Regions from separate parts of the Homo sapiens genome. Here regions 1 and 2 are each linked to region 3. Evidence: fine-mapped QTL for protein levels in blood plasma. Region 3 holds a variant in brackets. A gene starts in each other region. All regions are shown on their reverse strands.

Region 1 (2,743 bases), not on the chromosome of region 3:
GTTACATTCTGGCCCTTGAGGGACAAAGCTGAATGACACCCCGTCTTCTGTAATTTGCAGGATGGAACAGTCTGTGGATCCACTTTGAACTCGTGGTGGAAGGATGTCCCTTGGAAGGGGCAGATGCTCTGATCCTGGTAAGCCATCCTTGCTCCCCAGGGGTCCCCTCTCCTGATTCTTCACCTTCCTTCCCTTGAATCTGGTGAAAGGCAGTATTTGCCCTTCTCTGGAGACATATAACTTGAACACTTGGCCCTGATGGGGAAGCAGCTCTGCAGGGACTTTTTCAGCCATCTGTAAACAATTTCAGTGGCAACCCGCGAACTGTAATCCATGAATGGGACCACACTTTACAAGTCATCAAGTCTAACTTCTAGACCAGGGAATTAATGGGGGAGACAGCGAACCCTAGAGCAAAGTGCCAAACTTCTGTCGATAGCTTGAGGCTAGTGGAAAGACCTCGAGGAGGCTACTCCAGAAGTTCAGCGCGTAGGAAGCTCCGATACCAATAGCCCTTTGATGATGGTGGGGTTGGTGAAGGGAACAGTGCTCCGCAAGGTTATCCCTGCCCCAGGCAGTCCAATTTTCACTCTGCAGATTCTCTCTGGCTCTAACTACCCCAGATAACAAGGAGTGAATGCAGAATAGCACGGGCTTTAGGGCCAATCAGACATTAGTTAGAAAAATTCCTACTACATGGTTTATGTAAACTTGAAGATGAATGATTGCGAACTCCCCGAAAAGGGCTCAGACAATGCCATGCATAAAGAGGGGCCCTGTAATTTGAGGTTTCAGAACCCGAAGTGAAGGGGTCAGGCAGCCGGGTACGGCGGAAACTCACAGCTTTCGCCCAGCGAGAGGACAAAGGTCTGGGACACACTCCAACTGCGTCCGGATCTTGGCTGGATCGGACTCTCAGGGTGGAGGAGACACAAGCACAGCAGCTGCCCAGCGTGTGCCCAGCCCTCCCACCGCTGGTCCCGGCTGCCAGGAGGCTGGCCGCTGGCGGGAAGGGGCCGGGAAACCTCAGAGCCCCGCGGAGACAGCAGCCGCCTTGTTCCTCAGCCCGGTGGCTTTTTTTTCCCCTGCTCTCCCAGGGGCCAGACACCACCGCCCCACCCCTCACGCCCCACCTCCCTGGGGGATCCTTTCCGCCCCAGCCCTGAAAGCGTTAACCCTGGAGCTTTCTGCACACCCCCCGACCGCTCCCGCCCAAGCTTCCTAAAAAAGAAAGGTGCAAAGTTTGGTCCAGGATAGAAAAATGACTGATCAAAGGCAGGCGATACTTCCTGTTGCCGGGACGCTATATATAACGTGATGAGCGCACGGGCTGCGGAGACGCACCGGAGCGCTCGCCCAGCCGCCGCCTCCAAGCCCCTGAGGTTTCCGGGGACCACAATGAACAACTTGCTGTGCTGCGCGCTCGTGGTAAGTCCCTGGGCCAGCCGACGGGTGCCCGGCGCCTGGGGAGGCTGCTGCCACCTGGTCTCCCAACCTCCCAGCGGACCGGCGGGGAGAAGGCTCCACTCGCTCCCTCCCAGGAGAGGCTTGGGGTTAGGCTGGAGCAGGAAACCGCTTTCAAGTTATGCCATGCTTCCCCTAGGGTGTCCTTTTACGCTGCAAAGTTCCTGCTGACTTTATGGAAGACAGCAAGAGAGAGACAGACAGCGAGAGAGAGGGAGAGAGAGAGAGAGAGAGAAACTTGTTTGAAAGTTTTAGTCATTAACCTTCTGTCTTCATCTCAGAATATTAACGCCCTCATGTAGTCCATACTATCTTTGCTTAATGAACTTGAACTTTTATTATTAGTGGCAAAGAAGTGGTCCCTTAGATTCAGAGTAAGTTGGAAGAAGACGTTAGTCTTCTTAAAACCATTATAATTAGAATATGACATGATAGATTTTTCTAATGTAAATATTATGTGAAATTTTGAATAATTAGGAGAAAAGATCTCTCACACACACACTTCTTAACTGTGTAATGTTTTAATAAAATTTTATTGTTAAAATTATTTCACTTCTCAACTTCAATATACTGTGGAGAATATTGGCAGTATGTTATGTTCTAAAACATATCTAAAGAATTGAAGTTCACTAAATAGGGCTAAAAATTGTGTTTAAAATGTTATTTGGAAAAGAAAGGAATCTCTGTGACTTAGCTTTTTTTTTAAGCTTAGGTTTTGATCAAGTTAATAAGATTTGCATGTAGGTTTTTCTATGACCAATGACTTATTTTCTCTATGACACTAGAGTGTAGAGTACATCAAGATATGAATCAGACATTTATGCAAGGCTAGGAAAAGCCATATTTAAGCCACATATGTGTTTTGGATGTGTTTGAGTAAATGTTTGAACTTCAACCTCCAACCCACAAATAATGAATAGAAGGCTAGGTAGTCTTCTACTTAGTTCCTAGGATACAGAAACATAAATAAGTAAATAAATAGTAAAGACACTAAAGAACAGGTAAGTTGGATAGGAATCTACCCATAAGTATGTTAAAATATATATGTATGTATGTGTGTGTGTGTATAACTTCATCGCTAGAGATACTATGGAGTGCTTTTAAAAAAGTAAACCTTTATTAAAATATAACACATAGAGAATTGTGCAAGTGGTAAGTGCCTAATGCAGTTTTTCTAAGTGAGCACTTGTGAGCTAGCACACAGATCAAGAAATATATTATCGGCACCTCAAGAGCTTCCATCACTACTGTGTCTATGGCCAGAACAATCAGTATTCTG
Region 2 (2,733 bases), not on the chromosome of region 3:
CATCACACTCACCTCGCTTCCTTCCTCCGCCCACATCCCTAGCAGGCACGTGGGGCTGTCCCTCTTCCTTCACCCCCACAGGACAGCGCCACAGCCGCAGAGCCCCCATCCCGAGCCCGCGCCTCTCTGGTCGCGCCGTGTCATTCTGCCCACCCATTGGGCGACCTGGGCACGAGCACCGCGACCTCCCGCTCCGCGCAGCCCTCCAGCACCGTGGCCCCAGCACACCTGCAGAGCAGCCAGGCGCAGGAACCGAAACCCGCCGGGTGGTGGGCGGGAAGGGAAAGGTAGATGCCCAAGTGAAGGCGCTCATCTTTTTTCCTACGTGAACAGAAGTTGATTCTTAACTTCAAGTGAGAAATGACAGGGAGAAAAAGTATGCAATCACTACCAGAAAAGGTGAGAGGCCAGTGTTGTTTCCCAGCGAAGGGACGGGGTGAGATTCAAACCCATCGTCCGGCCAGGGGAGTCCGCCCCCAGAGCACCGAGAAGCTGGGGTGCGTGGGCGGAGAGAGAGCAGGGTGCGCCCGACAGCCCTGCGCCAGGTTGTCCCCAAACTCAACACTTCCTCTCTCCCTTCTGGAGTCACTTTCCCTTCCGGAATATGCAAGCTCTGGGTGGCCCAGCCCTGCCGCCAGACTCAGTTTCCAAGTGCGGGGGAAGGAGATGGGCGCTCTCAGCCGCGATCCCCTGGGAAGGTGGCCACTCACCTGCGCTCTGAAATAGAAGAACAGGGCGACGCTGCAGACAACCTGGCCCAGCCCCAGCCCCAGGAGGGCCACGAACATGGAGCGGGAGGCGGCAGGGGGCTGGTGCGGCGCAGGCGGCGGCGGGGCGTGCAGGGGGCCCTCGTGCGGGGCTCCGGGGCCGCCGCCCATCTCCTCCGAGCCACGCAGGTACTTGGTGTAGTCTCTGCTGGCGCGGCGCATGGCGCTCGGCCCTCTCGCTTCGGAGCTCTCCTCCCTCTCCCGCTCCCTCCCCTTCTTGTCTGCGGCCAACTCCGGAGGCTGCGGCGGAGCCTCGACGTGGGGCGCCGACTTGGAGCCCGGCTTTGGGTCCTGGGGCGCGCGGGCGAGCGGGCAGGGCGCCCGGCAGCCCCAACTCTTATAAACCGCTTGGAGAGCCCTGGCCTCGGGAGCCAATCAGCCCCAGGCGAGGCTGCCTCTTCCACTCCCACCTCTGGCTCCCCTTCCTTCCTTTCGCCCTCCCTCTCTCTCAATCTCTGTCACTGAAGGGCCTCCTTCATGGGGGCCCTCCAAGGAGGAGGCTGGGGGCTACTCCAGTGGTTCCAGACTCCCCTTGCCATCCTCAGCTGTCTTTCTGGAGGTCCAAGAGATGGGTTAAAGAAGACGCAGAGGACACCTTTGCTAAAGGATAAGGATTGCACCTCAGACATTCCTCCTGCATCCATTCTAGTTTGGTAGAGAAGGGACTTCACATCCTGGAGTCTCGGTTTCCTCCTTAGGATTTAGAAAGTTAAATTTGATGATCTCTGAAGACCCTTCCTGTCCAACCTCTCCCCCCAAAGTGCTTCCAAATATAGTTTCTCAAAGTATTTTGGAAGACTTCGAAAATTTCACAATCCCCTTCCCAAATCCCTATTTCTGCATCTTGAAGGTGACATTGAGCGAGGCAGGTCTTGAATGTGGCAGTAGAGAGCCTATAGACACCAACTCTGACTTTATAAAGATGAAAACAGTGCAGAGAAAAGGGTAAAGGGGCGTGTAGCCAGAAGCAAGCATCCGAGGAGGGCTCACCCAACAGTCAGGAAAGAGATGTAACACGAAGCTGATGATACAGTTAAATGTTAGTTTCATTGCTAAAGAAACCTTGCTAGGGCTTTTTAAAAACCTCTATTCAGAACTGTGGCTCTTAGTGAGAAAACAAAAATATTAACATTGCTCACAAATTCTGATACTTCTTCAGAAGGAAGTTGCTGACCAATTTAAACACCCATGAAACTTAGGATGTTTCCACTTTTTTATTAATACAGTTAGCCCACAGTATCCATGGGTTCCACATCTGTGGATGCAATGAACCACAGATCAAAAATATTTGAAAAAAAAAAAAAGGATGGCTGTGTCTGGACTAACATCTGTAGACTTTTTTTCTTGTGATCATTTCCTAAATGATACACAACTAGTTACATAGCATTTACATTCTATTAAGTATTATAAATAATCTAAAGATAATTTCAAGTGTACAAGAGGATGTGTGTAGGTTAAATGCAAATACTATGCCATGATATGTTAAGAAACTTGAACATCCATGGATTTTGGTATTTGCGGGGAGGGGTTTGGTGGTGTCCTGGAACCAGTCTTCCATGGATATCAGGGGACTACTGTGCCTTTTTATTTTGCATCCTCTTTCTGCCTAATTCGCTAATGAGTATTTCTCTAGGCAAGATTTGTGACAAATGACAGGTCTCTGAGTTATTAAAGCATGTGTTCTAAATTGAACACTTAGACCTCAGTAAATGTTGAGGAAGAGTGACCAGGTTGAATTTTTTTTAAAGGCAGCCATACAAAGAAAATGATCTGTTCAAATTCAAAAATGCCTTTAGCATTTATATGTGTATCAATATATAGGTTGGTGGAGAAGGGACAAAAAATTTTCAGACTCAAACATAGAAACAATTGACGTTAATTCTACTCCTTGTAGTCTTTGACCTCTTCCCACTTTTTGTTTGTTAACTTTGGGAAGTAGGTTTATTGTCTCCTCCTCCCCCTCCTC
Region 3 (2,760 bases):
TGTGCAGATGATCCTGGAGTAGCTTACACATAGCTTTGCCCAGTGTGGACAAAGGAATGCTGTACTCTAATTATTGGGGATCTGTGCTCTAAATTGTTGCTTCTAAACATAGAAGTACAGAAAAAGGAAACCACTGTTGCATGTTCTCTTATTGTTGCCCCCCTCCCCCACCGACCCCACTTCCCCCACCCTCTAGTGACTTCCAGGAAATTTGAAAGGCAAGTGCTTTTTCCCCACTTTCATTTTTCTCCTTTCTTTTCTGGAGGGTCAGACATTAAGGACTAGGACATTTGAAATTAAGTCACCACATAAACCCGGGGAAAGGGGTACAGACTCAGAAAACACTTGAGAAGACCTTACGTTTGCACCTCAGGCTAATGCTCAGCACACAGATAGCCTACAACCACCCCACAAAAACCAACCCCAAAACAAAACTCGGCAAGTCCTGGGAAGGGAGAGAATCTGATTTTTAAAGTTATCACATTACTAGACCCAAATGTTCAGTTTTGAACAAAAAAATCACAAGGTATATGTATTGGTCCATTTTCATGCTGTTGATAAAGACATACCTGAGATTCAGCAATTTACGAAAGAAAGAGGCTTCTTAGACTTACAGTTCCAAATGGCTGGGGAGGCCTTACGATCATGGCGGAAGGCAAGGTGGAGCAAGTCACATCTTACGTGGAAGGCAGCAGGCAAAAAAATAACTTGTGCAGGGAAACTCCCGTTTTTAAAACCATGAGATCTTGTGAGTCCCATTCACTGTCAAAAGAACAGCACAGGAAAGACCCACCCCTGTTGATTCAGTCATCTCCCATCGGGTCCCTCTCATAACACATGGGAATTATGGGAGCTACAAGATGAGATTTGGGTGGAGACACAGAGCCAAACTGTATCAGTATACAAAGAAGCAGTAAAGCATGGACCATTCAAAGGAAAAAAAGAAATCAACAGAAACTTCCTTGAAAAGACCTGATGGCTGGTGAATCTACCAGACATAAAAACAACGGTCTTAAAGATGCTCAGAGAACTAGAGGAAGATGTAGAGAAGGTCAGGAAAACAACACATGAACAGGACGTATCCCATGACGCTCATCCAAATGAAACCATTTGGTGGGGTGCAACCCCAGAATCACGATGGGTGCCTTGTGTACAGGAGGCCAAACTTTATATAAGTATTGTACATTTAGCAGTGGGAACTACAATCCCTGGCCATGGTAAAGGTGCTAGAGGAATCCACAATTAAGTGCATGGCAACTTTCCATGTGACAGTGTTAGTTTTGAATCTCGCAGTGTCACCTGTCATTCTTGCCCACAACTGGAAATGACAGTGACCCCAGTGTCCCCAGTGTTCAAGAGACTCATAATAGTTTGTGTAGTACCCTTTTCCCCTGCCTCTCAAACTAGGGCACAGGCGTTCAGTT[C/T]CCACTGGTGGCCCCAAATCTTGGCCCCATCTTTAGTCTGTCTTCTCCAAAGATGTTAGCTCAGGATATAATGGTGGAAGTGGTTCCTTTTCAAGTAGTTTCTCTCTGGCACCCACCAATGCCTCTGCTGTTTTGAACCCTTCAAGTGTTGGTGGGAACACTCAGGGCAGAGAACCAGTCAGCAAAATCAACTCAGTCTAACAAGCATTCCTCTTGCGGTTCAATTGCTTGAACCAATCGTTTAACATTAAGATCTCAGGATTTGGGCTGGGCGCTAGTGGCTCATGCCTGTAATCCCAGAACTTTGGGATCTGCTGCACAGATCAACCCATCACCTAGGTATTAAGCCCAGCATCCATTAGCTATTCTCCCTGATGCCCTCCCTTCCCCATCCCCTGACAGGCCCCAGTGTGTGTTGTTCCCTGCCATGTGTCCATGTGTTCGCATTGTTCAGCTCCCACTTCAGGCCGAGGCGGGCGGATCACGAGGTCAGGAGATCGAGACCATCCTGGCTAACACGGTGAAACCCTGTCTTTAATAAAAATACAAAAAATTAGCCAGGCGTGGTGGCAGGCATCTGTAGCCCTAGCAACTCAGGAGGCTGAGGCAGGAGAATGGCATGAACCCAGGAGGCAGAGCTTGCAGTGAGCCAAGATTGTGCCACTGCACTCCAGCCTGGGTGACAGAGCGAGACTCCGTCTCAAAAAAAAAAAAATCTCAGGATTCATTACAGAAATGCAAAGCAAAATGACAATGAAATACCATCTCATGCCAGTCAGAATGGCGATTATTAAAAAATCAAGAAACAACAGATTTGGCAAGGTTGCAGAGAAAAAGGAATGCTTTTACACTGTTGGTAGGAGTGTAAATTCGTTCAACCATTTTGAAAAATGTGGTGATTCTTCAAAGATCTAGAGGCAAAAATACCATTTGACCCAGCAATCCCATTATTGGGTATATACCCAAAGGAATATAAATAATTCTATTAATATTATAAAGATATATGCACATGTATGTTTATTGCAACACTATTCACAATAGCAAAGACATAGATTCAACACAAATGCCCATCAATGATAGACTAGTTAAAGAAACTATGGTGCATATACATCATGGAATACTATGCAGCCATAAAAAGGAATAGGATCATGTCCTTTGCAGGGACATGAATGGAGCTGGAAACCGTTATTCTCAGCAAACTAATGCAGGAACAGAAAGCCAAACACCACCTGTACTCACTTATAAGTAGGAGCTGAACAATGTGAATACATGGACACATGGCAGGGAACAACACACAATGGGGCCTGTCGGGGTAGGGAAGGGAGGGCATCAGGGA

Direction of the effects. Positions count from the first base shown, and alleles are read on the strand shown. Strength reflects both the effect of a copy and how common the allele is.
As copies of T replace C in region 3, the plasma level of the protein whose gene starts at base 1,335 in region 1 goes up (weak association).
As copies of T replace C in region 3, the plasma level of the protein whose gene starts at base 1,081 in region 2 goes down (moderate association).

What was found. PIP is the posterior inclusion probability: the model's chance that the variant is causal. The UK Biobank Pharma Proteomics Project read protein levels with antibody pairs (Olink). The fine-mapping took linkage between variants from a reference panel, not from the people measured, so its PIPs are less certain.
Region 1: it holds the start of TNFRSF11B, and the variant in region 3 is fine-mapped to the plasma level of the TNFRSF11B protein (UK Biobank, PIP above 0.99).
Region 2: it holds the start of TNFSF11, and the variant in region 3 is fine-mapped to the plasma level of the TNFSF11 protein (UK Biobank, PIP above 0.99).

What each region holds. Positions count from the first base shown.
Region 1 is chr8:118,950,477-118,953,219 of GRCh38, reverse strand. It overlaps TNFRSF11B (TNF receptor superfamily member 11b), which reads left to right and starts at 1,335. Exons shown (of 5, transcript NM_002546.4): 1 at 1,335-1,428. The coding sequence starts at 1,399. It also overlaps a transcript of COLEC10 not described here.
Region 2 is chr13:42,572,500-42,575,232 of GRCh38, reverse strand. TNFSF11 (TNF superfamily member 11) reads right to left here and starts at 1,081. Exons shown (of 5, transcript NM_003701.4): 1 at 711-1,081. The coding sequence starts at 929. RefSeq lists an enhancer at 484-683 and a silencer at 774-1,143.
Region 3 is chr3:172,575,375-172,578,134 of GRCh38, reverse strand. The region is part of intron 2 of LINC02068 (long intergenic non-protein coding RNA 2068); the gene reads left to right. Among named protein-coding and RNA genes, the nearest start is that of LINC02068, 19 kb to the left of the region's middle. The variant C/T (reference allele first, on the strand shown) is at 1,425.